2 separate regions of the Homo sapiens genome follow, and region 2 is linked to region 1. The links come from fine-mapping of genetic effects on gene expression. A gene starts in region 1. The other region holds a variant in brackets. All regions are shown on one strand. Distances are from middle to middle.

Region 1 (14,720 bases):
CCAACTGGGGCTCCTCAGCTCGGGGCCTCTAGGGGCTTGGGCTGCTGGTCTGGGTGGAGGCGCGTTGGGGGTGTCGAGGAGCTTGGGTGCAAGCCCCATGCGGGAAGCTCAGGGCAAAGCGCCTTGAAACCCTCTCTAGTGAAGGAAGGTAAAATGGCTCCGGGACCCCAGGCGGGGAAAGAGGTGTCCAAGGAGGAGGGCTGGAGAGTAAGGCGGGGATGGCAGAGGGTACGCAGAGGCTGAGAAGTGGGACCAGTGTCTCAAGGGGCGCCAGCCTCTTCCTCCGCCCAACATGGCCACCATTTTTGTTGGGATAGCCTTGGGCTCCTGCCAGGGGAACAGCAGGGCAGTGAGGGAGTCAGGACTTTGGGCTGGTGGGGAGGCCGAGAATCAAGGCTCTGGGGAGTCAGGACTTTGGGGCTGGTGGAGTGGCTGGGGACTGAGGCCCTGGGGGGTCAGGACCTTGGGCTGCTATGGAGGCTGGGACTGAGGCTCTGGGGGAGTCAGGACCTTGAGCTGGTGGGGAGGCTGGGAATTGAGGCCCTGGTGTGTTCAAGACCTTGGGCTGGTGGGGAGGCCAGGGCCTGAGGCCCTGGGGGGTCAGGACCCTGGGCTGTTGGGGAGGCTGGGGACTTAGGCCCTGGGGGGTCAGGATCTTGGGCTGGTGGGGAGGCTGAAGGGTGGGGACTGAGGCTCTGGGCAGTCAGGACCTCACGGTTGGGGTGGACTGGAGACCAAGACCTTGGCAGGGGAGCTGTGGCTGCCTCATTTGGACGCTGGAGGGTGGCTAGCGTGGCTGGAAGCGGCCAGCCAGGGGTTCACAGAACTGAAGGTGAGGCCTCCAGAGGCCCTAGTCTCTACCTGAGTGTCTCTGAAACTGGGGGGATGGGGTGGAGCCTTTAGGGGGAAGGGAAGAGGGAACTGAAGAGGAAGTGGGGGAGGGAGGTAGAGGAGGCAAGTCTGGCGCCATGCTGAGTCACCGCCCACAAGGCCCAGGGCGGGCCCTCGGGGGGCCCTGGCAGGGTTGGGGGGATCTTAGGAAGCCACAAGGAGGGCTGGGGGGCTCTTGGAGCAGGAGTCAGGAGGCCTGGGCAGCCTGAAGAGTACACGCCGACGGACAGACAGACAGTGCAGTCACCCATAAAGTAGAAAGCACTACTAACAGCACTGGAGGGTGTAGTGTTTCCTACTTTATGGATGAGTGTACTGTGGGCTTCGGAGATCACGCCACTGCTGCCGCCCGCTGCCCGCCACCATCTTCCTCGGCGCTCGGGGACCTCGTGTGACAGGTGAGCACCTTACGGCCCCTCCCTACCCTGCCCAGATGCCTGAAAGGCCTCCATGGCTTTCCTGCCCTTCCTGGTTCCGGACAGCTGGGGAAAGGCCACAGCAGCTCCTCTGCTGCCCTGCAGTCTTTGGGGGCGGGGAGGGCTGGACATGTGGAACCCTGATGCAGCCGCAGCGTCAAGGACGAGGAAGGGGTGGGAAGGGATGGTACGTGGAGGGGAATGGGTGGTGGGACCAGGGACCCAATGCTAATAAAGACTGGACTGTGCTTCTCTTTTGTCTGAGACTCTGTTGCTGGGGTGGGGAGCTGAATGCGGGCGGCAGGCACATGGACAGTATGGGCGCACAGAAGGGCTGGGAGGGAGAACCTCTGTCGCTCCTCCAGAAGATACGGGTTTGGCCCTGCCTATGAGATCAGAAGAGGGCTCTGGGCCTGGCCAGGCCACAGCCGGAGGAGAGAAGGGCCTGGGCCATCTGCAGAAAGGGGCAGGGATGTAAGGCATCCTCTCACCTTCTACCCTAGCTCTGGCCCTATCCTGCCCCCCTACATACCCAAACTGAAAGCTGCCTACATCCAGTTTTAATCTAAGAAAGTCTAGGGGGTCCTAGGTCATATAAAAATTGGGCAAAATCCACTGTGGCACATACACAGCATCTTAGACAAGGGCACAGACACTCATATACAAAGCACACACTGAGATGCAAATGCATTTACACACAGAGGCCCCATTCAGTGTGCCAGTAACACACACACAGACACATGTGACATGACTGGCATGACACACACAGGGATTACACACACCCAGGGCACATACATATTCAGTAGTACACACATGCAATGATAGAAACATAGGGCGTGTCTTACACATAGAAGAGCACACACATACAGTGACATTTGCATAATAAACACGGTGGCTCCATACACATACATAGATAGAGACATGTTCATATATCATGATAAATATAGAATACATAGATACATGGTGATATATATATATAAATCAAACCATGTCATTATGCATATTTACATGACGATATGAGCATGTCATATATTGTGTAATCAATTACTACATTGTGCCATATAGTAGCATCCATATCTATATATATCATGATGTGTTGTAATTTATAAACTCATGCAATGATAGCCTCCCATGCACATAACAGCACACACATAGACACAGTGGCAAACAAACATAGATGCAATGACACAGAAACATACATACAGATACACCCAATGTGTTTTTGTTACGTTTTATTATGTGACTCATAGACACATAATAGCACACACATATATACACACAATGGCCCCTTCACATATACAGAAATAGATAATGTCTATTCTATAGATGCATACTATACACACGCATGCGCATAATGGCATGCATATATACTCTGACCTAAACAGCAACACATCATGCAGTGGCGTGCGTGTTGACCTACACACTGCTTTAGGGAAGTGAAGATGTCCACTCCTCCCCATGCACCCCCTACCTCCAGTTCCATTGGCTCTTGCCTGGGTGGAGCCCACAGTCAGGGGCTCTAGGGTTCAGTATCACCGCTGCTATTCTGTGGGGGTGCCACACGAGGGCCCCCGACCTTGGCTGAAACTGGCTTGCCTAATGAGTCCCGGGTTCAGAGTGGAGAGGGGCTGCCTCTCGGGGCTTCTCCCAACACCCCTGGCTCTGGGGACTCTGTCTAGACCCCTGCCACTGCATATAGACTGACTCCTGGCTGAGGGGATTCTCACGTCCTTGTCCCCCAAATTATTTAGCAACAAGATCTAAGGCTAGACAGAAGATGAACTTCCAGGCAATTCGGGACAAAGCCAACCCAACAGGCCATGTGGGCTTCCCTGGTGGCCTGGGACAGCCAGGTTGCCCCCCAAGTGCAATCTGCCAGGAGGAAGCAGAAGGAATTCTCCGTCTATTTCTACCTGTCTCTTTGCTTGTCTTCCCGGTTTCTTTCTCTTGGTTTCTGTCTCTCTCTTTGTTTCATCTCAAGTCCCATCTTTTCTAGTTCTGCCCTTCTCTGTGGCTGGATCTCTGTCATACCCTCCCCCGTTCTGTCTCTATCAGTCTCACCCGATGTAGGGAGGACCATCTGCACCCCACTCGCCTCTGTACTCCGGAAGGTGTGAGAATGTGTGAAGATGAGGGTGGGAGGCCACATGTGGGAGCCCTGGGCTGACATGCCGTGAGAAACCTGCTCTTCCTTCTGTCCCCGACCCTGTCAGCCGGTTCAGCCCACCAGTCCAGCGCCATCACCATGGAAACCAGCAGCCGACTTCCTATTGGTGGGTGGGAGGGGAGGAGGAGGAGGAGGAGGGGAGGGCTGGCTCTTCCCGGCTCACCCCCCCACCCAATTCTGAGGCTCAGCCCTCCTCGGAGCCCACCATCTCGAGGCTCCTGGACTGTAAGGGACCCCTGCAGTCCCCAGAGCAGAGGCCAGCAGGGGCTGAGACTATGAGGCAAGCAGCCCATCGACCCAGGCCTCCTTAGGACCAGCCCAGCCACCCAGCAAGCGAAAGAGCAGCAGCAGAGAGCAGAGCCGGAGATAAAGGACCACAGCGGACCACTGGGGATCACCCCCAGCAGCTCCTGAAGCCTCTGGCCGGGCTGAGGGGTTGCGACAGACGGCCAGACCCACAGACACTGACAGACACACAACGACACCGATGCACACAGCTGCACGACACTGACACACTCAGATACAACCAGGGACAGCATCACATACTGCCACAGCCCTGCAATACAGACACCCACACACACACACACAAACAACTGGCAACTCTGAAATGGGCAGACAGTGACACACAGCACCACCCCCCTCAACACACAGAAGTGGGGGCACCCATCTTCCCAACACATGAGACAGCATTGACCTGCACGGACAGACCTGGAGACACACACACGCACCCTCACCCAGGCGCAGCTGTCGGTGGCCTCTGCACATCCTCCCTACCCCCACAGGGACACCCTCGCTCCTCCACATACTCGCGCACACACACAGCTACCAGCAAACATAGCTCACATACCCCTGGCTCCAGCTCCAGCAGCCCTGGCGCCTTCTGCAGCCTCCTTTGTGGGTGGGGAAGAGCTCAGCCAACCTTGGATGGAGCGTCGGTGAAGCAAGAGCTCAGAGGGGAGAGGGGCTGGCCTGGCATGACCCTCGCCAGTCCCCCCACCTGGCTGGGTGATGTCCCCCGGCCCGGGTTCTGGGGCCCCTTGGCAGTACCATGGAGCAACTGACAACCCTCCCACGGCCTGGGGACCCTGGAGCCATGGAGCCATGGGCACTGCCCACCTGGCATAGCTGGACTCCAGGTCGAGGGGGTGAACCTAGCAGTGCAGCCCCAAGCATCGCTGATACTCCTCCGGCAGCTCTGCAGCTTCAAGAACTGAGGTCTGAGGAGAGTTCCAAGCCCAAAGGAGACGGGAGCTCCAGGCCCGTGGGGGGAACTGACCCTGAAGGAGCAGAGGCTTGTCTGCCCAGCCTGGGCCAGCAAGCATCCAGCTCTGGACCCGCCTGCCAGAGGCCAGAGGATGAGGAAGTGGAGGCTTTCCTGAAGGTAAGGGATCTGTGGAGGGCTGGGGTCTGCAAGGTGGGGGTCTCTCACCATGTCCTCCAGCCTGGCCAGGAGGTGAGGCGAGGTATGCATCCCCAATGCCCACCTGTCCTCTCTTGGCCTGTCTGTGGGTCCATCTCTGTGGCTATCTGTCCTCTCTTCATCGAGCAGAAATCTGAGGGGCTCCATTTCTTTCGTCATTTGTCTGTCCTTCTGACCCTCTTTGCCTGTCTGTCTAGATCTGGCCCTGCTGCTGCCCCGTCCCTCTCTGTGCCTCCTCCTGACAGTGTGTCTGTCTGTGTCTCTTCTTCCATGAGTCTGTCTGTCCTTAGGGGCTGGGGGATACAGGGGGAGTGTGGAGGTGCACAGAGAATCAGTGCAGAGGAAGTAGATTGAGGGGAGGGGGCTTGGTGCTGGGCTGAGGCAGGGTTGGGGTGGGTGTGAGCAGGCTCCTGTAGAAGAGGGAAGGAACAGGACTTTGGGGGAGGGCAGGGGAGTCTGGAGGGATGGGAGTGGGAGCTCGAGCTCGCATGTCCCTGGAGGAGAAGATGGGTAGGAATGGGAAGGATCAGGGAGGAGCAGGAGGGTGCCAGGTTTGGGGGTGTCTATGTGGACAGGGAGGACTGGACAGTTCCTTCTCCTAGGCCTCCTCTGCTCCTCTCTGAAGGCCTGGGACATAGGGGAAACCGTTTCATCTCCATGTCTCCTTGGACCATGGATGGTGGATGCTTCCACAGGGAAGGCTCTGGCTGGGTGACGTGGGTTTCTGAGGTGCTGTCCTCGGTCCTTTCCCATGCCAGGCCAAGCTGAATATGAGCTTTGGGGACAGGCCCAATCTGGAGCTGCTGAGGGCCCTGGGGGAGCTGCGGCAGCGCTGTGCCATCCTTAAGGAGGAAAACCAGATGCTGGTGAGGCTTGGAGACTGGGGTGCTGCGTTCTGGCTGGAGCCAGGCCCTCTGCCTCAGTGCCCTCCTCACCCCATGAACATCTTTCCAAGTGGGGGCTCAATGGAGGTGACAAAATCCTGAGACCCAGAGAGGGTGAACCCCTGCCTAGAGTTGCCAAGGACCCCACTGTGAGCCTAGGGCTCTAGCCCAAGACTTGGGCTGTTAGGACTGGGTCTGTGGGGTGCTCCCTACATGCCCCAATTCTGCCTGACCCCTTGTCAGAGGAAGAGCAGCTTCCCTGAGACAGAAGAGAAGGTGCGGAGGCTGAAGAGGAAGAACGCCGAGCTGGCGGTCATTGCCAAGCGCCTGGAGGAGAGGGCCCGAAAGCTGCAGGAAACGAACCTGAGGGTGGTGAGGAAAGGAGGCTGCTGGGCGGAGGCTGGGTGACCAAGGAAGAGGGGAGCCAGGGCTGGGCCTGAGGGCTGTCTGAAGCTTGGGAGTCACGGTCTCAGCTCAGCACCTAGGAAAGCAAGAATCTAGGGGCTAAGGTGCAGGAAGGGCAGAGGCTGGCCAGGCAAGGAGGCCAAAGGTTTCTGGAGCTGCAGGGGGCAGAGAAGAGCTGGATGGGGAGGTTCCTGAGCAGGCAGGGAGCAGGATTCTGGATTACCACGTGCTGGTGCTGGCGGCAGCCTTCTGCTGAGCTCATCTCAGGGTATAGAGCTGGAGTGGGGGCAGGGATGAGACCCATCACAGTGGCAGCCCCAAATTAGCAGCATCCTTTGATCCTAAACTCAGATGTAGAGTTAATCCTTTCCAACTGCTGGGATGGGGTAGAGTGAGGCTGCTGGTTTTCTGAGACCCCAGTCAAGGTGGAAGCAGGTGGCTACCCCCCTAGGTTTTCATGCTAACTCCTCCTTTGGGAGGAGATGAGGAGTGGGAGAAGTGCCCCAGCCCTCAGGTGACCATTGGCCTTACCCCTCCTCTGGCTAGGTGAGTGCCCCCTTGCCCCGGCCGGGGACCAGCTTGGAGTTGTGTCGGAAGGCCCTAGCCCGCCAGCGAGCCCGGGACCTCAGTGAGACAGCCAGTGCACTGCTGGCCAAGGACAAGCAGATTGCTGCCTTGCAGCGGGAGTGCAGGGAGCTGCAGGCCAGGCTCACTCTGGTGGGCAAGGTGCGAGGAGGCCCTGGTCACCTCTTCCAGCTCAGCCCTGCACAGGGCCATCTGCCTGTTGTGGGATGCAGACAAGATGTTAATGAGACGCAAATGAAAGGGAGGGTGGAGGTTGCTGGGAGTAGGTTCCCCTGGCAACGGCCCAGGTGGGAGAGGGGAGAAGGGGGTGGAGCCATGAGTCCCAGACCTGGGCATTTCTGTGCTCCAGGCTTGAGGCTGTTTGCCGGTGGGTCTGGCTGTATGCATCCACACATCCCCTGTGTGAAGGGATGTTCACAAGGTATTTAGCACAGTGCTGGGCACATTGAGAGCACCCAAGAAATAAGTTACTGAGAATGACCGCATAGGGGCTCGCGGGAGCATGTGGCCACATACGCATGCACATGTAACCAGGCATGTACCCATGGGAGGGTGTGCACAGTCTCGCGCATCGGAGCCCCTCCAGCAAGGCGAAGGGCTCTGCAGGGGATGGCATGGGGCGGGCAAGGATTAGGCCTGAGTCCCCTCCCTGTCCCTGTCCCCCAACCTCAGGAGGGTCCCCAGTGGCTCCACGTGCGGGACTTCGATCGGCTGCTGCGCGAGTCCCAGCGGGAGGTGCTGCGGCTGCAGAGGCAGATCGCGCTGCGCAACCAGCGGGAGACGCTCCCGCTCCCGCCGTCCTGGCCCCCGGGCCCTGCTCTCCAGGCCAGAGCAGGGGCGCCTGCTCCCGGGGCCCCGGGAGAGGTGAGCGCCGGCGCAAGGGCAGGTGTGTGGGTGCGTGCAGATGGGTGGGGGGAACGACCACCGGGATCTCCCCTGCACCGTGCTCAGAACCCCAAGGACTCAGTGGTGGTGTGCGCACTCCCAGGGGCTGGGGAGCTTTCCCGTCCTGGGCAGGGTCCACCTCCAAGCCTCCCGTGCTCGTACCTGCGCCGTGCCCTCCCCTGGGGGCTCCAGGGTTCCGCCCTCCATAGGCCTGCGCCCAGCGGGGCCTGGCCGGCCGCCCCTGCCGCGCTGCCAGTGGTACGGCCCGGCCGCAAATCCCTGGTTGTCCTGGCAGCCGCCCGGGGCCCAGCCCGCGCCGCCTCCTCCCGCCGCCGCCGTAGAGCGGGGACGCCCCCGTCAGCGCCCGCCTGGCTGGCCAGGCCTGGCCCCAGCTACCCGGGGGCGGCGGTGCGTCCGCCCCGGCTCCAGGTACAGGCAACCCTCACTGAGCGGGGGGCTTAGGCAGCCCCTGTCTCGAGGGCCAGGGACCCGCTTAGGACCCCCAGAACTTAAGGGTCTGGCTTCTCGCCATCATCCTAGGTAGGCAGCAAGTAGGTCCTCCTCCTTCTGGGAAGAGGGCTGGGAGGAGAGACCAGGCAGTGATCTGATAGTGACCAAGACCTCCGGGTGGGGGGAGGCTTCTTGCTCAGATTTTGTCTCCCTGGCTGGCCCTGGAAGGGAGATGCACCCTCCCATCAAGACCTGTCCTCCCCCAAAGTTTGCACGGATAATCGGAAGGTGTGGTAGGGTGGGCTTGGGGGAAGCCAGGAGAAGGGTCTGGCTGGACTTGCGCTGCTCTAGGCCAAGCCCAGATTTGGATGATACAGAACCCCTATCTTGGGGAACACCACATCCCCGGGGGCCCAGGCAGCCTCCTAGTTCTCTGCCAGTCGCTGAAGGACACCCAGGACAGTTATTGAGTGCAGAGCAGGGCTGCTGCTGGAAGCTAAAAAGGGAAAGCTTTGGCCTGGATAAAGGACCCATCTCCCAGGGCACACGTGGGTCCCAGGATCTCAAAGCACTTATGGCTCCAGGACACAGGGGTGCAGCCTTTGTACTTACACATCAGCTGGAGACAATGGGAGGTGGGTGGGCAGACAGTACCCCTCTTTGCTCTTGCTAGGCAGGGATCTCTTGCTGGCTGAATGATGGGGTGGGAACCTGCTCTGGGCAGGCTGGGCTGGGGCAGGCTGCCCTGGGGCCCTGTTCTCAGGTGCCAGCCCCTTGCCCCTGGGCATTTCCAGGCCACGCCCCAGGAGGATGCGGACAACCTACCCGTGATTCTAGGGGAGCCAGAGAAAGAGCAGAGGGTGCAGCAGCTGGTAAGTCCTAGGTCAAGGGCTGGAGGCAGCCTGCTGTGGGCAGATGTACCTTCCCTCATGAGGAGCACTTGGTTCTGACCCCTCAGGAATCGGAGCTCAGCAAGAAGCGGAAGAAATGCGAGAGCCTGGAGCAGGAAGCCCGGAAAAAGCAGAGGCGATGTGAGGAGCTGGTGAGCTCTTGAGGGCAACCCAGAGGCCAGCTCCTCCCTTCACCCCGGCCAGCCAGGTGGTGGGCTCCCTCTCAGCTCTGCTCCCACCCCTGCTGCCCTCAAGAACACATTTTCCCTCCTGCTCCTTTCCTTTCCTGGCTGGTGCAGGTTCCAGCAGGGGAGGAAGGCCTTGCCTGGGAGGAGGGCAGGGTCCTCTGTGTGGGGAGAGGGGGAATGTGGGTGCTGGGCTCCCTCCTGAGAGCTCCTCTGCCCGCTCAGGAACTGCAGCTGAGACAAGCGCAGAATGAGAATGCCCGCCTGGTGGAGGAGAACTCCCGGCTCAGTGGGAGAGCCACAGAGAAGGAGCAGGTACCACTTCCGCCCAGGTGCTGTGGAGACCTGTGCTCCCACCACTGCCCCGGTCCCCAGCCAAGGGGCTTTCTCCTCCACCCCTGAGCAGGGGTAGGGTACTGTTCCCCCTGTGAGGGTGCTGGTGGGTCAAGGCTCACCCACCCAACTCCCTGTCACTGCCCCCTCGCCAGGTGGAGTGGGAGAATGCGGAGCTGAGGGGCCAGCTCCTGGGGGTGACACAGGAGAGGGACTCAGCCCTTCGCAAGAGCCAGGGCCTGCAGAGCAAGCTGGAGAGCCTGGAGCAAGTGCTGAAGGTGAGGAGATGGTGCAGGTGGGAGAGGGTGCTGGGCCCTGGCATGGGGAGCAAGTGGGACAGCAGAATATTCTTAGTGAGGGGCACTAGCTCTGAGGCCTGGGCCTGGAGCTGCTCCAGGCTCAGTTTCCTTTGTAATAGAGGAATCTGGAGCAAATGGTGTTTGAGGCTTCCTCATCTTAGATCTTCTCTAGAAATGGCCAAGTAGGGGCTCTGGCCTTGACTCAGATCTTGTGTTTCAGCACATGCGGGAGGTGGCCCAGCGGCGGCAGCAGCTGGAGGTGGAGCATGAACAGGCTCGGCTCAGCCTACGGGAGAAGCAGGAGGAGGTCCGGAGACTGCAGCAGGTGGGGCGGCAGTGAGGGAAGCTGGCAGGCTGCTGGACACCAGCTTTGCCACTCACTCATTCCACAAGCATTTACTGTGTGCCCGGCACTGTGCTAGGCGTCGGGGAGACTGTGGGGAACAAAGACCAGGTCCCTGAGCAGTCAGCAAATTAGCATCCAGGAGTGAGCTGATTTCAGACACTGATGAGCACAGTGGTGGAGAAGAACAGGGTGATGTGACAAAGTGACTGGGATGGGGTGAGGAGCCACTTTAGAGGTCATCAGGGAAGGCCTCCCTGAGGAGGTGACAATTGACCTTGCCAGCCAGGAGGTGTAGACATGCACATGCTCTGTGGCAGGGAAGAGCTGAAGAAGCCTGAGACCAATGTGGCTAGAATACAGCAAGGGATGGGCAGCGTGGTGGGAGTAGACAAGAACCCGATCCTGTCGGGCCTTAACGGCCATGGGAAGAGTTTGGGTATTTTGCTCTGTGAGTAGATAGAAGCTCCTGAAAGATCCTAAGTGGGGGAGTGACATGATCTGAGTCATAATTTTACAGGATCACATGGCTGGTATTATGGAGGGTGGACTGTGGGAGCAGGCGTGGAGCAGGGCCTGGGCGGTGGCCTGGGAGGGAGATGGTGGCTGTCTGGACAGAGATGCATGCAGTGGAACGGGAGACAAGTGCCTGGGTTTGAGTTATGTTTTAGAGATAGAACTGACAAGGTTCTGGCCGGGCATGGTGGCTCATGCCTGTCATCCCAGCACTTTGGGAGGCCAAGGTGGGTGGATCAGTTGAGGTCAGGAGTTCGAGGCCAGCCTGGCCAATATGGTGAATCCCCGTCTCTACCAAAAATACAAAAATTAACCTGACATGGTGGCGGGCCCCTGTAGTCCCAGCTACTCAGGAGGCTGAGGCAGGAGAATTGTTTGAACCCGGGAGGCAGAGCTTGCAGTGAGCTGAGATCGTACCATTGCACTCCAGCCTGGGCGACAGAGCGAGACTCCATCTCAAAAAAAAAAAAAAAGAATTGACAAGGATCCCCGTGGGATTCCAGTTGAATCCCTTCTCTGACAGCCATTTGCTGTATAAACCTTGGTGGAGGGTGGGGCTCTTCATACTCCGTGAGGTGAAGGATGAAGGGGCAGCAGATCTGAGAGGTAGGTCATCCCGAGTGCTGAGTTCCATTTGGGCCATGTCTGAGCTGCGCGTTAAACATTCAAGGGGAGCTGTCCACAGGCACTTGGATACATGAGCCTGGGGTTATGGGTAAGTTGGTCTTGGAGATATTTGGAGCCACCAGTGTGTTTAGTTGTATGAGTAGATGGGAGCCCTAGGAAGAGAGTAGACAATATAAACTGGGCCCAGCACTGGGTCCAGGGTAACCCTAACATTCAAAATGGGGGACAGGGAGCAGGCAAAAGAGGCTGAGAAGGAGCATCCAGAGAGGTAGGGGGGAAACTGGGAGGATGGTTGCTCAGGAAAGAGGGGAGCTGACTCAGCCACGCTTCTCCTGGTCCCCTTTGCCTTCTGGTCTAAGGTATGGTTCAGGGTGGGTGTTCAGGAGGGAGAAACCCTTCGGCCTCCCCCTTCCCTATCCCTCTTCCCTCTCTCCCTACCCTTTTCTTTCTCCCGGCTTCTTCCTCCCCTGCCTCTGTCCTTTCTACCCTTCCTCCCTCGCAGCCCTCTCTACTCCACCCCATTCCTTCTCCTTCCCTCCAGTATTTTGGTTCCCCCCACCTGTAGGCCCAGGCTGAAGCCCAGAGGGAACATGAAGGAGCCGTGCAGCTGCTGGAGGTAGGGCGCCTGGAAGTGGCCCCCAGTTCCACCATCTTGGGAGGAAGGCGGGGGTCCTCCAGATAGAGCTGAAATGGACTATGGCGGTGGGGAGAGGGGTTGCAGGAGGGGCCCTTAAATGCTCCAGGACCTGGGGGAGTCCCCTCCACCACTGGCCTATTTCTCAGGGTGGGCACGGCTGGGCAGGGGGCTCCCAAGTCTGGTGGCAGCAGTCTCCCATTGCTGCCACCCCCAGAGGCTGCCTTCACCCTGAGATATCCTTCCATTTAGGAACTGCTAGTCAGTCCAGGGAGCTGACTGGATGATATCCACTTAGGCCCCCTTCTCCGCCTCCCTCTCTGGGTTAGCAACCCACAGCGCTCAGGGTTCTAACCTGTTCTCTGCTTCCTTTCCTGCAACAGTCTACCTTGGATTCCATGCAGGTAGCGCCTCGTTCTCCACTTCCCCACACCTCTCCAGGCTGGCTGAGTTGCATCTCCTCCCTCAGGGCCCAGGCAGTCCCCCTCTCTCATCCAGCAGAGGGGGTGTCACTGGGAGCAGGCATGAGAATCCATAGGGGGTGGAGTTCCCACAGGACACGTGCGGCTGTCCCCTTGTCCCAGGCCTGCCGCCGTGTCTGTCAGACACTGGGCCTCCCCTCTCTAGCCACCCTGATCATGAGGAAGTTCATCACCAGTCTAACTTAGGAGCCTCGCCATAGTGGCCGGAGAGAGCCCCTGCTATTGGGACTCTCCTCAGACCTGAGAAAACTTCCCGGGCATTGGCCCATTCCCATCACGAAGACATCCCTGGCTCCCCTGTGGAATTTCCTGCCCGCCTCTCTCAGGGAACGGGTTTGAGTTGCTGATTGTGGGAGGGTGATGAGCAGTGGAGCTGAGAAAACTCCTGCGGTGATGGTGGTGATGATGGGGTGGGAATGATCCCTGTTGGCCTAGAAAGCAGCCAGAGGCAGAGGTGCCATCGCCTAGGGCCTGAGGGTTGGTGAGTGTGTGGCAGGCCCCGGCCTTGGCTCTGGAGGGGGCTGGGGTGAAGATGTCCCAGGACACAGCCCAGGACTTCACCCTCCGCTCTGATGCATTAAGGACAGTGGGGTGGCCAAGGCAAGGCTGGTGCCCAGGCCTGGGGCTGGGTGGATGGATATGACCTGAAACCCAGTGTAGGGCTGTGTACAGATGGCACGGGCTGGCACTGGGTAGCTTTGAGGGGCCTGGCGGCTCATGGTGGGTCTTGGCCCAGGCCCGGGTTCGAGAGCTCGAAGAACAGTGCCGCAGCCAAACCGAGCAGTTCAGCCTCCTGGCACAGGAACTCCAGGCTTTCCGCCTGCACCCGGGCCCCTTGGATCTGCTCACATCTGCCCTGGACTGTGGGAGCCTTGGAGACTGCCCACCACCCCCCTGCTGCTGCTCCATTCCCCAGCCTTGCCGGGGGTCTGGCCCCAAAGGTAAGGTGGACCCCAGTGGCATTGGCCTGGAATCCCCAGGCCTGGGCTTTTGGATAGAGCAGGGAGTTCAGGATCAGAGAAGGCCAGCAACTCATCCAAAGTCACACAGCAGGTTAGAGCTGTGCCTGGCTAGAACCACGTTCTGTTGGGGAAAAATAAAGCCCAGGGGAGTGACTGTCCCAGAGTCTGGCCCAGGCATCGTGGGCCACTGCTCCTCTCCTTCCAAAAGGACCTGAATGGTCAGACCTAGGGGTTGGGCACTAGGAGTCAGTAGCAGGCAGTGTGGCCTTGTGCAGAGTGGGGGCTTGGGGGTCAGTCGGATCCGGTGGTCCCAGCTCCACTCACTTGACAGTCACTGTGATTTGAGAATGCTGCTTAACCTCTCTGGGCCATAGTTTCGTAAGCTGTAAGACAGGAATAATTAAATGCATCTCATCAAGCTGTTTTGACGATCATGTGAAATAGTATTTGTAAATCAGCTATACCTCTATTTAGTAAGTTTCTCTCTAAATATTTCCCTTTTTGTAAGGAAGCCCGGCTATGGAGGGCCTGGTCCCCATATCCAAGAAGCACCACCCTATCTCCTGGTCCCTCCTCAGGCCACAGACCCCAAGCCCACGTGCCATCTTCTCTTTAGACCTTGACCTCCCGCCGGGCTCCCCTGGGCGCTGCACCCCAAAGTCTTCCGAGCCTGCCCCTGCCACTCTCACTGGGGTCCCTCGAAGGACAGCCAAGAAGGCAGAGTCTCTCTCCAACTCCTCCCACTCCGAGTCCATCCACAACAGCCCCAAGTCATGCCCTACACCTGAGGTAATTGCTGGGGTGGGGCCTGAAGTTCTGGCTTTGGCTTGGGGAAGGGTGCAGGGCAGGTGGCCCTGACCTCTTCTGGGGTCCCCAGGAGTTGGGTGGCAACTTCTGGGGTCCCAAGTTGGGAGGTGGGAGGCCTGTGGATTCCTCCTGTGGGCGAGGCGCTCAGGTGGAGCCCTTCCTGCCCTCCACTGCCTGCCTGCAAGCCCCACCTGGGGCCACCCCAGCCCACCCCTGGGAGGCCCAGGGAGGCTCTGGAGTGCTGGGCTGGATGGAGGAGACACTTGGGCACCAGGATCTGCATAATGAGACTGTTCCTAAGAGCATCTGTAGTGAAAGCAGGTGGTTGTATGAGAAAGCACATGTTCCAGGATTCAAATCCCAGCTTTGCCTTAGGCAAGTCACTGAGCCTTTCTGGGCTTCTGTTTCCTTATCTGAATCTTGGAGCTAATAAAACCTGCCTTCTAAGGTTGTTGTGAGAGTTAAATGAATACGGAACCTGCCTGTCTCAGTGTGGGGCACACAGGATGTGTGCTCAACACGGGGCAGCTGTTATTATT
Region 2 (15,517 bases), 26 kb before region 1:
ATGTTAACATAATTTTCTAAAAGATGAAAGTGAAATAAATATCTTGAGGAAAGAGAACCTTTTTCTAAGGTACCCACAGGTGCCCTATGGGCTAACAGTGGCCCTGGGTGAAAGAGCTCCAAATGGCTGAGGGGAGGTTTAGGGATTGACACGCATAGTGGCCCTCCCAGGGCAGGCAACCTGACTGGAGGGAACAAAGGAGTCCCAGAGCACAGGCAGCTTAGGCACGTCCTTGATCCCCCAAACTCTGAGCTCACAGGCTACTCAGGGTCAAATAGATTAGCTACAGCCATGTCTTTCTGAATGCATTCTCTGTAGGTTTGTAGAGTTAAACATCTGTGCTCTTGGTTCTTTTTTCCAGAGGGAGATTCATTTTCCCAGTCCCTGGGACCCTCTCGATCTTACCAAGAACCAGGTCGAAGACTCCACCTCATTCGCCAGCATCCCGGCCATGCCCACTACCACCTCCCTGCTGCCTACCTGTTGGGCCCTTCCCGGAGTGCAGTGGCTCGGCCCCCACGACCTGGTCCCTTCCTGCCATCCCAGGAGCCAGGCATGGGCCCTCGGCATCACCGCTTCCCCAGAGCTGCACATCCCCGGGCTCCAGGAGAGCAGCAGCGCCTGGCAGGAGCCCAGCACCCCTATGCACAAGGCTGGGGACTGAGCCACCTCCAATCCACCTCACAGCACCCTGCTGCTTGCCCAGTGCCCCTACGCCGGGCCAGGCCCCCTGACAGCAGTGGATCTGGAGAAAGCTATTGCACAGAACGCAGTGGGTACCTGGCAGATGGGCCAGCCAGTGACTCCAGCTCAGGGCCCTGTCATGGCTCTTCCAGTGACTCTGTGGTCAACTGCACGGACATCAGCCTACAGGGGGTCCATGGCAGCAGTTCTACTTTCTGCAGCTCCCTAAGCAGTGACTTTGACCCCCTAGTGTACTGCAGCCCTAAAGGGGATCCCCAGCGAGTGGACATGCAGCCTAGTGTGACCTCTCGGCCTCGTTCCTTGGACTCGGTGGTGCCCACAGGGGAAACCCAGGTTTCCAGCCATGTCCACTACCACCGCCACCGGCACCACCACTACAAAAAGCGGTTCCAGTGGCATGGCAGGAAGCCTGGCCCAGAAACCGGAGTCCCCCAGTCCAGGCCTCCTATTCCTCGGACACAGCCCCAGCCAGAGCCACCTTCTCCTGATCAGCAAGTCACCAGATCCAACTCAGCAGCCCCTTCGGGGCGGCTCTCTAACCCACAGTGCCCCAGGGCCCTCCCTGAGCCAGCCCCTGGCCCAGTTGACGCCTCCAGCATCTGCCCCAGTACCAGCAGTCTGTTCAACTTGCAAAAATCCAGCCTCTCTGCCCGACACCCACAGAGGAAAAGGCGGGGGGGTCCCTCCGAGCCCACCCCTGGCTCTCGGCCCCAGGATGCAACTGTGCACCCAGCTTGCCAGATTTTTCCCCATTACACCCCCAGTGTGGCATATCCTTGGTCCCCAGAGGCACACCCCTTGATCTGTGGACCTCCAGGCCTGGACAAGAGGCTGCTACCAGAAACCCCAGGCCCCTGTTACTCAAATTCACAGCCAGTGTGGTTGTGCCTGACTCCTCGCCAGCCCCTGGAACCACATCCACCTGGGGAGGGGCCTTCTGAATGGAGTTCTGACACCGCAGAGGGCAGGCCATGCCCTTATCCGCACTGCCAGGTGCTGTCGGCCCAGCCTGGTGAGTTTTCAGAGGGAAGTGGGTGTGGTAGGGAGAGGAGACTACAGCTGAATATTTCAGGACAGGTGAAGTCAGCCAACAAAGGGTTGATGGAAGCTGAGAAGGATACAGCAGAGATGACAACCAAAATACTTAACCATCGGGACAGCGTATCATGCTGGCTAGAGTGCAGGAACACCCCACCTCTGCCAGGTGCTACCCCTTTAGTTGGCAGATCACAGGGAGGTCCCAGGGAGGTGCTGGTGTGGCTGAGGCATCAGAAAGGCACTTGGAAGGCCGGGTGTGATGGCTCATGCCTGTAATCCCAGAACTTTGGGAGGCCTAGGTGGGTGGATCCCTTGAGGCCAGGAGTTCAAGACCAACCTGGCCAACATGGTGAAACCCTATCTCTACTAAAAATACAAAAATTAGCCGGGTATGGTGGCGGGCACTTATAATCCCAGCTACTCAGGAGGCTGAGGCAGGAGAATCGCGTGAACCTAAGAGGCGGAAGTTGCAGTGAGCCAAGATGGCGCCACTGCACTCCAGCCTGGGTAACAGGGTGAGACTCCATCTCAAAAAAAAAAAAAAAAAAAAAAAAAGAGGCATTTGGAATGGTCCCCGGGGTAGTAGCTCAAACATAAGTGTTTCTAAATTTTAATAACTGGTTTAGTTCTACCAATGCTCACAGCTCAGTATTAGTTCTAAATACAAAGAAGGCTAAGAAGTGTTCCTCGGGGGGAGCTATAGTAGAAATAATTACACATAACCATAATACGAGGCTATATAAGAAGAGCTATGTGAACAACGAGAAAAAAGAGAGAGAGAGAAACCACAGGTGGTTCCCAGCAGCCCTGTGGAGCCTTAGGTTTTCTTCTCTTCCCCTGTGGTAAAAGAACAAGGAGGACTTCCCTTCAACACATCATTATTAATAAGACTGACCTTAATTTCTTGGGGATTCAGTGCATCCCTATATCATAAGCAGTGATCACGTAAATTCTCAACTTTAACATGGTGTTTACTTGCCCACATATCTCTCTTTTCCATTCAGGACCTTCCACCTTCTACTCTTCCCCATCTTCCCCCATTGTATGGATGACACAGTTCTTTGTCTACAGCCATCACTAGAACCCTTCCAACCCAGGAGGTGACACAAAGGTCCTGAAATATTCTTCAGTGTAGGAATTCTTCCTGCAGGACCTAGGAGCTGCCCTCATCCAATTCATTCATTTATTCATTTCCTTTCTCCTTCCTTCCTTTTTTTCCTTCTGACTATATGCCTGCTTTGTGCTAGGTTCCAGGCTAGGCTCTGAAGACATGGAACTTGCCAATCAGGACATCCAGGTCCATGGGGAGAGAGCCATGTACTGCAAGCTTTGGCTATGTGTTTGTGATTCCATTCGGACCCTATTGTGTGTGTACTTTGAGTGCTGCCAGTACCACACCACTATCTCCCTTTTCTCTCAAACTCAGAACTAGTTTCAGTGCCTCTCTTTTTCTTGCCTTTCACATCTAATCAGTGCCAGATTCTGTTAACTGTATCTTGGCTAGCTTTATCATGTTCTTTTCAAGTCCAGTACTGATGGCCCTGCCAGTGTCTTAGGTATACCCTAAAGATCCATGCAGGAGCCTCCTAGCTCTTCCCTTCCCTCTTACAGGGCCTCGAAGGCTGAGTGCTGCCCATCCAGTATGTCCCATAAAGTTGTGCACCACAGCTCCACTGCTCACCTACCCTCCCTATTGCTGCCAGCGTCATCTGCCTTACACTAAACTGTCCAGAAATCTTCAAATGTTCTGTTTGTCCACAGAGAGGAAAAATCCAACCTGCTTTGGCCTCAAAGGTTCCTGCACCAGCCAGCCCCCATCTTCCTTCTCAACCTTATTTTCTATTCTCTTCCCTCCCTTCCCCAGGCCCATGCTTTAGCCAAACTGGGTAAACAATTCTTGTAGTTCCTGTAGCCCAGAATATTCTCCTGCCTTCTCTATTCCCATAAATCTAATTCTTACCTATTCCTACAGAATCAGCTCATTTATCCCCACTTCCAGGAAGCTTTTCCTGATTGCTGCACTTGGACCTGGTCTCTCTCCTTCCTTAATGCATCTCTCGTGACTCCTGTCCTGTCCCACTGGCGTAATGGCCATTTGTTTTCATACTTTCTCTCCAAAAAGGTTACCAGGTCCCTGCTTATTCTTTTTGGTCTTCTATTTGGCACGTGGTAGCAGACCAAATTCACAACGAATCCTTAATATTTATTGGGTGAATAAATGAATAGTAAGTATTGGTAACACACTGGTTGCTATATATATTTCTTTAGATTTGTTTTTCTCTCCCCTGTGTCCCAACTGGGGCCCCCTTAGCTTTCAATCTAACCACCCTTTCCAGACAGTCTCTGCTTCTCCCTCCCTGTGGTCCCCTCTCAGCCACACTCTGCTGCAGGCGAGAGAAGCAGGTCCCTGGCCTGACCCTCAATGACCTCTTTCCTCCCCGCTCTCTAAATACAGGCTCAGAGGAGGAACTCGAGGAGCTGTGTGAACAGGCTGTGTGAGATGTTCAGGCCTAGCTCCAACCAAGAGTGTGCTCCAGATGTGTTTGGGCCCTACCTGGCACAGAGTCCTGCTCCTGGGAAAGGAAAGGACCACAGCAAACACCATTCTTTTTGCCGTACTTCCTAGAAGCACTGGAAGAGGACTGGTGATGGTGGAGGGTGAGAGGGTGCCGTTTCCTGCTCCAGCTCCAGACCTTGTCTGCAGAAAACATCTGCAGTGCAGCAAATCCATGTCCAGCCAGGCAACCAGCTGCTGCCTGTGGCGTGTGTGGGCTGGATCCCTTGAAGGCTGAGTTTTTGAGGGCAGAAAGCTAGCTATGGGTAGCCAGGTGTTACAAAGGTGCTGCTCCTTCTCCAACCCCTACTTGGTTTCCCTCACCCCAAGCCTCATGTTCATACCAGCCAGTGGGTTCAGCAGAACGCATGACACCTTATCACCTCCCTCCTTGGGTGAGCTCTGAACACCAGCTTTGGCCCCTCCACAGTAAGGCTGCTACATCAGGGGCAACCCTGGCTCTATCATTTTCCTTTTTTGCCAAAAGGACCAGTAGCATAGGTGAGCCCTGAGCACTAAAAGGAGGGGTCCCTGAAGCTTTCCCACTATAGTGTGGAGTTCTGTCCCTGAGGTGGGTACAGCAGCCTTGGTTCCTCTGGGGGTTGAGAATAAGAATAGTGGGGAGGGAAAAACTCCTCCTTGAAGATTTCCTGTCTCAGAGTCCCAGAGAGGTAGAAAGGAGGAATTTCTGCTGGACTT[T/C]ATCTGGGCAGAGGAAGGATGGAATGAAGGTAGAAAAGGCAGAATTACAGCTGAGCGGGGACAACAAAGAGTTCTTCTCTGGGAAAAGTTTTGTCTTAGAGCAAGGATGGAAAATGGGGACAACAAAGGAAAAGCAAAGTGTGACCCTTGGGTTTGGACAGCCCAGAGGCCCAGCTCCCCAGTATAAGCCATACAGGCCAGGGACCCACAGGAGAGTGGATTAGAGCACAAGTCTGGCCTCACTGAGTGGACAAGAGCTGATGGGCCTCATCAGGGTGACATTCACCCCAGGGCAGCCTGACCACTCTTGGCCCCTCAGGCATTATCCCATTTGGAATGTGAATGTGGTGGCAAAGTGGGCAGAGGACCCCACCTGGGAACCTTTTTCCCTCAGTTAGTGGGGAGACTAGCACCTAGGTACCCACATGGGTATTTATATCTGAACCAGACAGACGCTTGAATCAGGCACTATGTTAAGAAATATATTTATTTGCTAATATATTTATCCACAAATGTGGTCTGGTCTTGTGGTTTTGTTCTGTCGTGACTGTCACTCAGGGTAACAACGTCATCTCTTTCTACATCAAGAGAAGTAAATTATTTATGTTATCAGAGGCTAGGCTCCGATTCATGAAAGGATAGGGTAGAGTAGAGGGCTTGGCAATAAGAACTGGTTTGTAAGCCCCTAAAAGTGTGGCTTAGTGAGATCAGGGAAGGAGAAAGCATGACTGGATTCTTACTGTGCTTCAGTCATTATTATTATACTGTTCACTTCACACATTATCATACTTCAGTGACTCAGACCTTGGGCAAATACTCTGTGCCTCGCTTTTTCAGTCCATAAAATGGGCCTACTTAATAGTTGTTGCAGGACTTACATGAGATAATAGAGTGTAGAAAATATGTTCCAAAGTGGAAAGTTTTATTCAGTGATAGAAAACATCCAAACCTGTCACAGAGCCCATCTGAACACAGCATGGGACCGCCAACAAGAAGAAAGCCCGCCCGGAAGCAGCTCAATCAGGAGGCTGGGCTGGAATGACAGCGCAGCGGGGCCTGAAACTATTTATATCCCAAAGCTCCTCTCAGATAAACACAAATGACTGCGTTCTGCCTGCACTCGGGCTATTGCGAGGACAGAGAGCTGGTGCTCCATTGGCGTGAAGTCTCCAGGGCCAGAAGGGGCCTTTGTCGCTTCCTCACAAGGCACAAGTTCCCCTTCTGCTTCCCCGAGAAAGGTTTGGTAGGGGTGGTGGTTTAGTGCCTATAGAACAAGGCATTTCGCTTCCTAGACGGTGAAATGAAAGGGAAAAAAAGGACACCTAATCTCCTACAAATGGTCTTTAGTAAAGGAACCGTGTCTAAGCGCTAAGAACTGCGCAAAGTATAAATTATCAGCCGGAACGAGCAAACAGACGGAGTTTTAAAAGATAAATACGCATTTTTTTCCGCCGTAGCTCCCAGGCCAGCATTCCTGTGGGAAGCAAGTGGAAACCCTATAGCGCTCTCGCAGTTAGGAAGGAGGGGTGGGGCTGTCCCTGGATTTCTTCTCGGTCTCTGCAGAGACAATCCAGAGGGAGACAGTGGATTCACTGCCCCCAATGCTTCTAAAACGGGGAGACAAAACAAAAAAAAACAAACTTCGGGTTACCATCGGGGAACAGGACCGACGCCCAGGGCCACCAGCCCAGATCAAACAGCCCGCGTCTCGGCGCTGCGGCTCAGCCCGACACACTCCCGCGCAAGCGCAGCCGCCCCCCCGCCCCGGGGGCCCGCTGACTACCCCACACAGCCTCCGCCGCGCCCTCGGCGGGCTCAGGTGGCTGCGACGCGCTCCGGCCCAGGTGGCGGCCGGCCGCCCAGCCTCCCCGCCTGCTGGCGGGAGAAACCATCTCCTCTGGCGGGGGTAGGGGCGGAGCTGGCGTCCGCCCACACCGGAAGAGGAAGTCTAAGCGCCGGAAGTGGTGGGCATTCTGGGTAACGAGCTATTTACTTCCTGCGGGTGCACAGGCTGTGGTCGTCTATCTCCCTGTTGTTCTTCCCATCGGCGAAGATGGCCCTGGAGACGGTGCCGAAGGACCTGCGGCATCTGCGGGCCTGTTTGCTGTGTTCGCTGGTCAAGGTGTCAGTCGGGGACCTGGTTGTAGGGCCCATGGGGGACCAAGGTCGGGGAAAGAGGGCGGAATGGGGCTGTGGGACAGTAAAGAGAAAAGTTAAGTCTCAGAACTCAGAGGTGGCAGGGGGAGTGAGAAGCCGAAGGAGGCCATCGTTTACCTCGTAGGATCGCGGACAGGTCTTGCAGCTGAGGGCAGGGGCGGTCTTACATGCCTTTGAATCCTCAGCTCTTAGACGTTCGGTGAACTTACGTTGGAGCCGAAAGACACTGGGAGTCAGAGGCGGGTGGGGATCCGCTGCTGAGTGAGTAGTCGGAAAGGATGCCTGACCCTGAGTAGACTAGAGAAAGGAATAGATAAAACGGAATTGGGAACGAGAGAGGAAGGAGTGGGAGGGTGGGACTTAGGAATGAAGCTTTGAGAGTAGTAGGTGGGGAACCTTAGGATACACAGTCAACATAGGGAAACAAGAAATTGAGCAGGTCGAAGTATTGAGAAAGCTACTTTTTCTCTTGGTCTTGTTCATGCTTATCTCTCCTTTTCCTTTATTTTTCTTTCACTCCCAGACTATAGACCAGTTTGAATATGATGGTTGTGACAATTGTGATGCATATCTACAAATGAAGGGTAACCGAGAGATGGTATATGACTGCACTAGCTCTTCCTTTGATGGGTAAGCCGCTTCAGTTTCCATCATTCACTTCTGCATTACCCAACCTGCACCCAGAGAAGTAAATGCAGGGCAAGTGTTAATCCTAGTTGGGCCCAGCCATTCGTTTTTGGGGGTTATTTTGTGTGGGTTTTTTTTTTTTTTTTTTTTTTTGAATCAGGGTTTTGCTCTGTGGCTCAGGCTGGAGTGCAGTGGCATGATCATAGCTCACTGCAGCGTGGAATGATCCTCTGACTTCAACCTCCCAGAGTGCTGGGATTATAGGTGTAAGCCACTGTGTCCAGCCTCAACAGTTATTTTGGGACATACTAGTGCTATGCATCTAATACAGTGACCACTATCCACGTGTAGCTACTGAGCACTTGAAATGTGTCTAGTCCAAATTAAGACATGCTTTTAAGTATAAAATATACCCCAGATTTCAAAGACTTAACATGAGAAGAAAGAATGTAATCTTAATAATGTTTGTTAAATGCATGAAAATTTTTTTTGAAAATGAAGGGAAGGGAGGTGTAGTAATGGTAGATCATTGCCCAAAAGCTGTTGCTTTTTTTTTTTTTTTTTTTTTGGACAGACTTTTCGCCCTTGCCACTCATGCTGGAGTGCAATGGTGCAGTCTCGGCTCACTGCAACCTCTGCCTCCTGGGTTCAAGCAATTCTCCTGCCTCAGCCTCTTGAGTAGCTGGGATTACAGGCACCCACCACCACTCCCAGCTAATTTTTATATCTTTAGTAGAGACGGGGTTTCACCATGTTGGCCAGGCTGGTCTCAAACTCCTGACCTCAGGTGATCTGCCCACCTCGGCCTCTCATAGTGCTGGGATTACAAGTATGAGTCACCATGCCCGGCCCATTTTAGCCATTTTACTTATTTATTTATTTATTTATTTATTTGAGATGGAGTCTCGCTCTGTCGCCCAGGCTGGAGTGCAGTGGCGCAATCTCGGCTCACTGCAACCTCCGCCTCCCAGGTTCAAGCAGTTCTCTGCCTCAGCCTCCTGAGTAGCTGGGATTACAGGCACCTGCCACCATACCCAGCTAATTTTTGTATTTTTAGTAGAGACGGGGTTTCACCATGTTGGTCAGACTGGTCTTGAACTGCTGACCTCGTGATCCACCCGCCTCGGCCTCCCAAAGTGCTGGGATTACAGGAGTGAGCCACAGCGCCCGGCTGCAATGGCACGATCTCAGCTCACTGCAACCTCCGCCTCCTACCTCAGCCTCCTGAGTAGCTGGGATTACAGGCGCCCACCACCACGCCCAGCTAATTTTTGTACTTTTTTTAGTAGAGACAGGGTTTTGCCATGCTGGCCAGGCTGGTCTCGAACTCCTGACCTCAGGTGATCCTCCCGTCTCAGCCTCACAAAGTGCTGGGATTACAGGCATGAGCCACTGTGCCCGGTCGCCATTTCTAAATACACAATTCAGTGGCATTAGTGCATACTCACTGTTGTGCAACCGTCACCACCATCCATCTCCAGAACTTTTTTCATCTGTACCCATTAAACACTAGCTCCTCGTTCTCTCCTCCCTCCTGTCCCTGACAACCACCATGCTTTGTCTCTATGAATTTGGCCACCTTAGGCACCCTTAGGTACCTATGGGCTCATTCAGTAGCATTTTTTAGCTTCTTTCACCAACATAATGTCTTCAAGGTTCATTCATATTGTAGTATGCAACAGAATTTCCCTCCTCTTTTGAGCTGAATAATATTCCCTTGTATGTGTATAGCATGTTCTGCTGCCCATTCATTCATCAATGATATCTTGGGTTGTTTCTCCCTTTTGGCTATTTGTGAATAATACTGCTGTGAACATTGGTATACAAATATGTGTTCAAGTCCCTGCTTTTCATTATTTTCAGTACAGATGCACCTCAACTTCCGAGGAGTTACAACCTAATAAGCCCATCATAAGTTGAAAATATAAGCCAAAAGTGCATTTAACACACCCAACCTACTGAATATAATAAGTTAGCCTACTTCAAATGTGCTCAGAACGCTTATGTTACTGTGGCTGACCAGAAGCTGTGGCTCATGGCTGCTGCGCAGCATCATGACAGAATATTGTACTGAATTGCTAGCCTGGAAAAGAACAAAATTTAAAATTTGAAAACGATTTCTATTGAATGCATGTCACTTTTGCAAAATCATAAATTTGAAAAATCATAAGTTGAACTAAGGTAAGTCAGGGATCATCTGTATATCCACAAGTGAAATTGCTAGATCATATGATAGTTCAGTGTTTAATTTTTTGAGGAACTGTCATACTGTTTAGCAACTGCACCATTTTCCATTCCCACCAACAGTGCCCAAAGGTTCTAATTTCTCCCCATCCTCACCAACACTTAATTATTTATTAATAATAGCCATCCTGATGGGTGTGACTTTGGTGTCCCATTTCCCCCAATGAATGGTGATGTTGAGCCTCTTAGGTGCTTATAGCCATTTGTATATCTTTGGAGAAATGCCTATTCAAGGCCTTTGCTCATTTTTGACTTCAGTTTGGTTTTTTTGTTGTTAGGTTGTAGGAATTATTTGTATAATTCTAGTGCATATTAGGTCTTAAAGAGTGGGCAAATTAAAGATCGGAAGAGGGCTAGATGACCTCAACCAGAATTGGAAGAGGTAGTACTTTCCTCTTAAGGCAAGAAGTTTGGGATTTTTGAGGAAGTTGAGGTGAGAGAGAGAGAGAACATTCCAAATAAAGGGAGTGACTAGAGCAAAGGCTTAGGATGGGAAAAACCAGGATGTTTTTGGAGAACAGTGGGAATTCTGTTTAGGTTAAATCATAAGGTTGGGCTGTAGGGACCCTAAGGCTAAAAAGATAGATTGCAAAGGACAGAGAAGAATATACTTGTGGTCAGGAGGATGGCCTGCATACATGCCTATCTCCCATCAGGCTGCAGGGCTGGGGGCTAGTGTTCTGCTTGTCACCCCTGGAGGTAGGGTCGGTTCCACTTAACAGCGCATGGCTGAGAATGTAGGATTTGGATGGGAAGGGAATCTTCTCAAATAAGAATCCAAGATTGTTACTGAGAGAAGAGGGGAGGCATATTGAGGCAGTCAACAAATGTCAGTGCTTACACCCACACAATAGGCAGTCAGTAAGCATTTGATTGAATGCGTTGAATGACAAAAATGCTTACCCATCTTGCTCAAGCAGCATCTTCTAGCCCTTGAATAGCCTTACCATTCCTCTGGAATCACAGCTACCTGGGAAGGACTATTAGGATAATGAGGAGAGCTAATGCTTATTTAGCACCTACTCTGTGCTAGTCTTTGTGCTAGGTGTTTTTCATGTATTATCTCAACCTTTGAGTCTCAGCTTACTGATGAGGTTCTGAGAAGGGAACCCCACATGTATAGGTCATTAGAGGGGTCCCCATATGTATAGGTCATTAAGAGGAAAAGTTTAGCCAAGTTGAACTCCTTTCTAGTAGGAGGATCCGTTGTTTTCACTCACCCTCCTCTTTGCACTAGGCCCTAGACCCCTTGTAGTTGTGTTAGTTGTAACTATTGGACCCCTTGTCCTAAAGCCGTCTCATTTTCTAGGGAATGTTAGGCTAAGGATGTTTGTGAGCTGAGTGAGATAATCTTTTGGGGATGGAAACTGACCTGTGGCTGGCCGGCCAAGGACATAAGAATGAAGAACTTTTGTCAGTCCTAGCTTTGAGTCAGCCTCATCCCAACATCAGAAGGCAGTTTTGCCAGCTTTCCAGTGGAGACTCGGTACTTGGCTTTTTCCTAGATTCCTCTCTCAGAATTGAGCTCAGGCCCAGGGAGGCTCAGGCTGACTCTCCATTTCTTTTCCCTCCCTAGAATCATTGCGATGATGAGTCCAGAGGACAGCTGGGTCTCCAAGTGGCAGCGAGTCAGTAAGTGTTGGCCTGTCTCCTTTTGGCTTAGTTGTAGTGTTGTTACTGTTCCTCAGGTCCATTAGGGAGTCTCAAATCAGCAAGATGAGTGACCTCAGGGTGGGAAAGATCGGGTTGTAGGAAACACAGGGAAGCAGTGTCCTGTGCCTTGTCATTTAACACTTGTAGCCAAAAGAGGGAATAGCTCTTCTCTTGGAGTTGCATCACTTCTTTAGCTTAAGCTTCCATTTGATCTTGAGTCTTAACTAACTTCACTGTAATCTTGTATCTTTTTTCTTCTCTCTCAGGTAACTTTAAGCCAGGTGTATATGCGGTGTCAGTCACTGGTCGCCTGCCCCAAGGTAATAATAATCATAACAGCCAATGTTCATTTACTGTAAAGCTCTGTGGAAGTTTTTTTATCTGAATTAATGCCAATTCTCACATTCTATGAGGTTCAGCATTTTACAGATGGGGGGAACCAGGCACAGAGAGGTTAAATCACTTGCTGGAGGTCACCAGGTAGTAAATGAGGAGCCAGGATTGGAATCCAGGCATTCTGGCTCCAGAATTTTTGCTGTTTCTGTTTTTTATTTTTTTTAGAGACAAGGTCTCACTATGTTGCCCAGGCTGGACTCTAACTCCTGGGCTCATGTGCTCCTCCCACCTCTGCCTCCTGAGTAGCTGGGACTACAGGTGCTTGGCTTAGAACCTTTGCTTTTGATGACTACATGTATCCCTCTTTTTCTTCTCATTCTTACCGAATACCTGCCTGGGTCTTCACTAGTAATGAGTCAACTAAGCAGGACCTTTTTTTTTTTTTTTTTTTTTGAGACAGAGTCTCTGTCACCCAGGCTGAAGTATAGTGGCATTATCAGAGCTCACTGCAGCCTTGAACTCATGGATTCAAGGGATCCTCCCGCCTCAGCCTCCCAAATAGCTGGCACTACAGGTGCAAGCCACTACACCTGGCTAATTTTTAAAATTTTTTTGTAGAGATGGGGCCTTGCTCTGTAGCCCAGGCTAGTCTTGAACTCCTGACCTCAAGTGATCCACCTTGACCTCCCAAAGTGCTGAGATTGCAGGCATGAGCCACCGTGCCTGGCCAAGCAGACGATTGATAAGTAGTCTAGGAACTCCAGTTTGCTTATAGTACCCCCCTCAAGGTGGCAGCTGAGTGGCCTATCTTACCCTTCTGAATCTTACCTCACAGAACTGTTTCTTTTCCTGCTTCAGGAATCGTGCGGGAGCTGAAAAGTCGAGGAGTGGCCTACAAATCCAGAGACACAGCTATAAAGACCTAGCAAGATGCAAGGCTGCCAGCATCTTTGCTCTCCACCTCCTGCCTCTGCTTATTTCTTGTTCTGGAACTAAATGAACAGAACTTCAAATACTTCCTACCCTCCAATTCAGACTCAGCTGACTGTTGAGAGAGCAGCACATCATTTTATCATTTTATCTTCTTTGGACTACAGGTGGGGTGGGAGGGATTTGGGTTGGTGGATTAACAGATGGAATTGAGGAGAGAGTAGGATGCTGATTTTCCTACCCGTGGCCCAGGTCTGTGCCTTCCCCATGCCAAGGACTCTAGGTCAAATGTCAATAAATATGAACCTCGAGAAAGTTCTGAAGGCCATGACACCTGCCTTGCCTCCCTCTTCCATTCTCTTAGGCACAGTAATAGCTTATTTGCCCTATAAGAACCTTCCCAGAGCAGCAGAGGCCCTTCTACTCCCTCTTGACTGTCTCAGCCTCTGGGATTGCAGCCTTTGTAGTGTGCTTCCTTGCTTCCTATCGGAGGGTGCTGATCCAGAGGCTCAGTAACCCCATCAACTTGGTGGCCCTGGTGTCTCACACTTGTATCCTTCTGCCCTCGAGACCTGGCACAGCAGTATCCCTTGAAGAAATCCTGAGGCTTTGTAGAGTGCTCCTTGACCATGTTTAATAATTCTTCCCTCCCCTGCTTGTCTATTTTCTTCTCTTCACGGCTCTTCCTATACCTTAGGCCAGTCTCAAGCACTCACTGGAGACCCTTGGGCCTTGGGCGACCATTGAGTCCTAGTCTCCCTTGTTTGTGCCCCTGTAGGAGGTAGGTCCTTTTCTCCTCCGGCCTAGTAGGGGACCTTGGGTAACATCCCATTTTTCGGCCAAGGTGAGTTGTTTTAGGATAAAAAAATTTACCACAAATTCTCATTTAAATTTCCACAGAAATCCTGTTCGTATCCCCATTTTGATTTCCCTAAGTTCCTTGTTCTCCCTCTAAAAAGAGAATGATTGCACCCTGCCTGTTTACCTCAGGATTGTTGTGATTGTAGAAACGAAGCTATGTGAAAATTATATAAGTATTATAAAGGTGAAATACTTTTGCTCTCCTTTTTGGGCCATTTTTCAATACATAGAATATGTGCACAATCAGCCAAAATAGTAGGGGAAATGCTGAGAACCACAACTGCAGGGTGAGCTGTGCTGTGCTAGGGCAGAGCTGCCTGTGCTAGGGCTTTGTGTCTCAGCCACCTGGTGTTGCTCTTGAGTTGATTTTGCTTGTTACCTGTGGCCTGGAGAGTGTGGGAAGGAGGAGAGATGCGACCTGACTCTGATTAGTTTGTCTACTCCCCTTCCTTGTCCTCACATAGGCCTATGGGAGGGAAACTGGGACTGGCCGGGCTGCTCATGTCCACTATGGTCTTCAAACCAAAACCATTTTCTCTGGTGCCTTCAAGCTCTGAGGGAATGGTCAGATAACCCCAACTCCAAACTGAGTTTCTCAAGGATTTCCCCAGCCCAGCAAACAGAAAGCTCCGTGGGTGGTGATTTCTGTTCAATTTCAACCTGAAAGCAACCCTGCCAGGCTAGAGCTTACGTCCTGGATGGAAGAAGTGCGTTTCAGCAAGTGCCCAGGCTGTGCAGCCAACACCCAACTTTCACTAGCTTCTCAAAAAGTCCCTTGGAAAGCCCCAGCTGCTGTCCTGGGTGTCTGACCCGGACGTGGCTGCTTGGTGAGAATGGAAACAGTTGTGGGGAGGGGAGGCAAGAGGAGCTTGCACAAATAACCACATTCAGGCTGCCTCAGCCCTACACTGAACTGGGCCCTAACTGACAGTCTCACAGGAAGCAAAAGACATAGCATAGGCATTGATGCTTGTGGGGGAAGGGTGGCCTGTTTTCCTTCCTGGACTCTACAGACTGTGCCAAGTGGGCTCTCCCCGGGAGCTGCTGCTGAATTAGCTTTCTTGCTTTCTCTGGTACTTGAACATGCAGGTGGTGCCACTCAGCAACCCAGACAGGCAGAAAGGTGCTGGAGTCCCATCCTCTACTGGGAACCCAAAGAAACTAAGACAAGGACTTGGTTCACAGCTCCCTGGGAGTGGGCGGTCCTGGTACTGCTGCCCTGCTTTCCATGGCTATGAGGGCAGCCATGAGAGCTATGTCCTGCCCCATTGGCCCATTGTGTCTGTCAGAGTTTCAGTCCCGTCCTGGCTGCCGAAGTTCTGAGTGCATAGCATCTTAAGATCTCTCCTTGTCTTGCTCAGTAGTTTGGCTTCTCTCCTGAAGAGCAAGCCTCCTCCCTAGCTCAACAAGGACAGATGCAAGTCAGACAGAGACTAGGAATAGTAGCCAGGCTGCCTTCCCCTTGCCTGCCCTTGCCTCATTCCCTGCTTCCTCCCTGCCACATACTGTGGAATTAGGGTCTCCCAGAACACTGAGGAGCTCAGTGGCAGTGCATTGATAATGCAGCCTCCAGCTCAAGAAAGGACTGGTAGCTGATAGAGCAAGGGTCAGGATGGTCTGGTCTTGGAGGGGAGCAGTTTCACCAGGGTTGGGAACTGAGGCTTTGCTCTTGGTGTGGCTTCTGCCTTGTTACTCCTAGTCTGTCTGCAGCCT

Which allele goes with the higher level. Positions count from the first base shown, and alleles are read on the strand shown. Sizes are in standard deviations (SD) of each study's normalised expression.
As copies of T replace C in region 2, the expression in pancreas of the gene that starts at base 3,648 in region 1 goes down (small effect, 0.16 SD a copy in GTEx).

The links. PIP is the estimated chance that this variant, and not a neighbour inherited with it, causes the effect.
Region 2: its variant is fine-mapped to the expression of TSPOAP1 in pancreas (GTEx, PIP above 0.99). The same link has a PIP of 0.9 or more in lung and prostate.

The regions. Positions count from the first base shown.
Region 1 is chr17:58,317,723-58,332,442 of GRCh38, reverse strand. It overlaps TSPOAP1 (TSPO associated protein 1), which reads left to right and starts at 3,648. Exons shown (of 32, transcript NM_004758.4): 1 at 3,648-4,855; 2 at 5,653-5,760; 3 at 6,022-6,150; 4 at 6,730-6,909; 5 at 7,441-7,632; 6 at 8,898-8,975; 7 at 9,062-9,145; 8 at 9,404-9,493; 9 at 9,667-9,789; 10 at 10,031-10,135; 11 at 11,862-11,912; 12 at 12,314-12,334; 13 at 13,149-13,353; 14 at 13,991-14,163. The coding sequence starts at 4,523. It overlaps TSPOAP1-AS1 (TSPOAP1, SUPT4H1 and RNF43 antisense RNA 1), which reads right to left and starts at 6,993. Exons shown (of 5, transcript NR_038410.1): 1 at 6,715-6,993; 2 at 4,322-4,393. MIR142HG (MIR142 host genes) reads left to right here. Exons shown (of 1, transcript NR_186557.1): 1 at 1-1,555. It overlaps MIR142 (microRNA 142), which reads left to right and starts at 1,125; the gene lies at 1,125-1,211. RefSeq lists enhancers at 896-1,035, 2,826-2,905, 3,006-3,175, 3,706-3,775, 4,646-4,805 and 2 more and silencers at 4,486-4,595, 5,206-5,265, 7,526-7,615, 7,656-7,725, 7,846-8,095.
Region 2 is chr17:58,343,668-58,359,184 of GRCh38, reverse strand. It overlaps SUPT4H1 (SPT4 homolog, DSIF elongation factor subunit), which reads left to right and starts at 6,984. Exons shown (of 5, transcript NM_003168.3): 1 at 6,984-7,118; 2 at 7,677-7,783; 3 at 11,601-11,656; 4 at 11,944-11,997; 5 at 12,872-14,007. The coding sequence starts at 7,050. The coding sequence ends at 12,939. It overlaps RNF43 (ring finger protein 43), which reads left to right. Exons shown (of 10, transcript NM_017763.6): 9 at 362-1,717; 10 at 4,199-5,509. The coding sequence ends at 4,242. It overlaps TSPOAP1-AS1 (TSPOAP1, SUPT4H1 and RNF43 antisense RNA 1), which reads right to left. Exons shown (of 5, transcript NR_038410.1): 4 at 7,271-7,441; 5 at 5,458-7,186. RefSeq lists enhancers at 5,668-6,203, 14,438-14,967 and silencers at 6,591-7,020, 7,301-7,410. The variant T/C (reference allele first, on the strand shown) is at 4,997.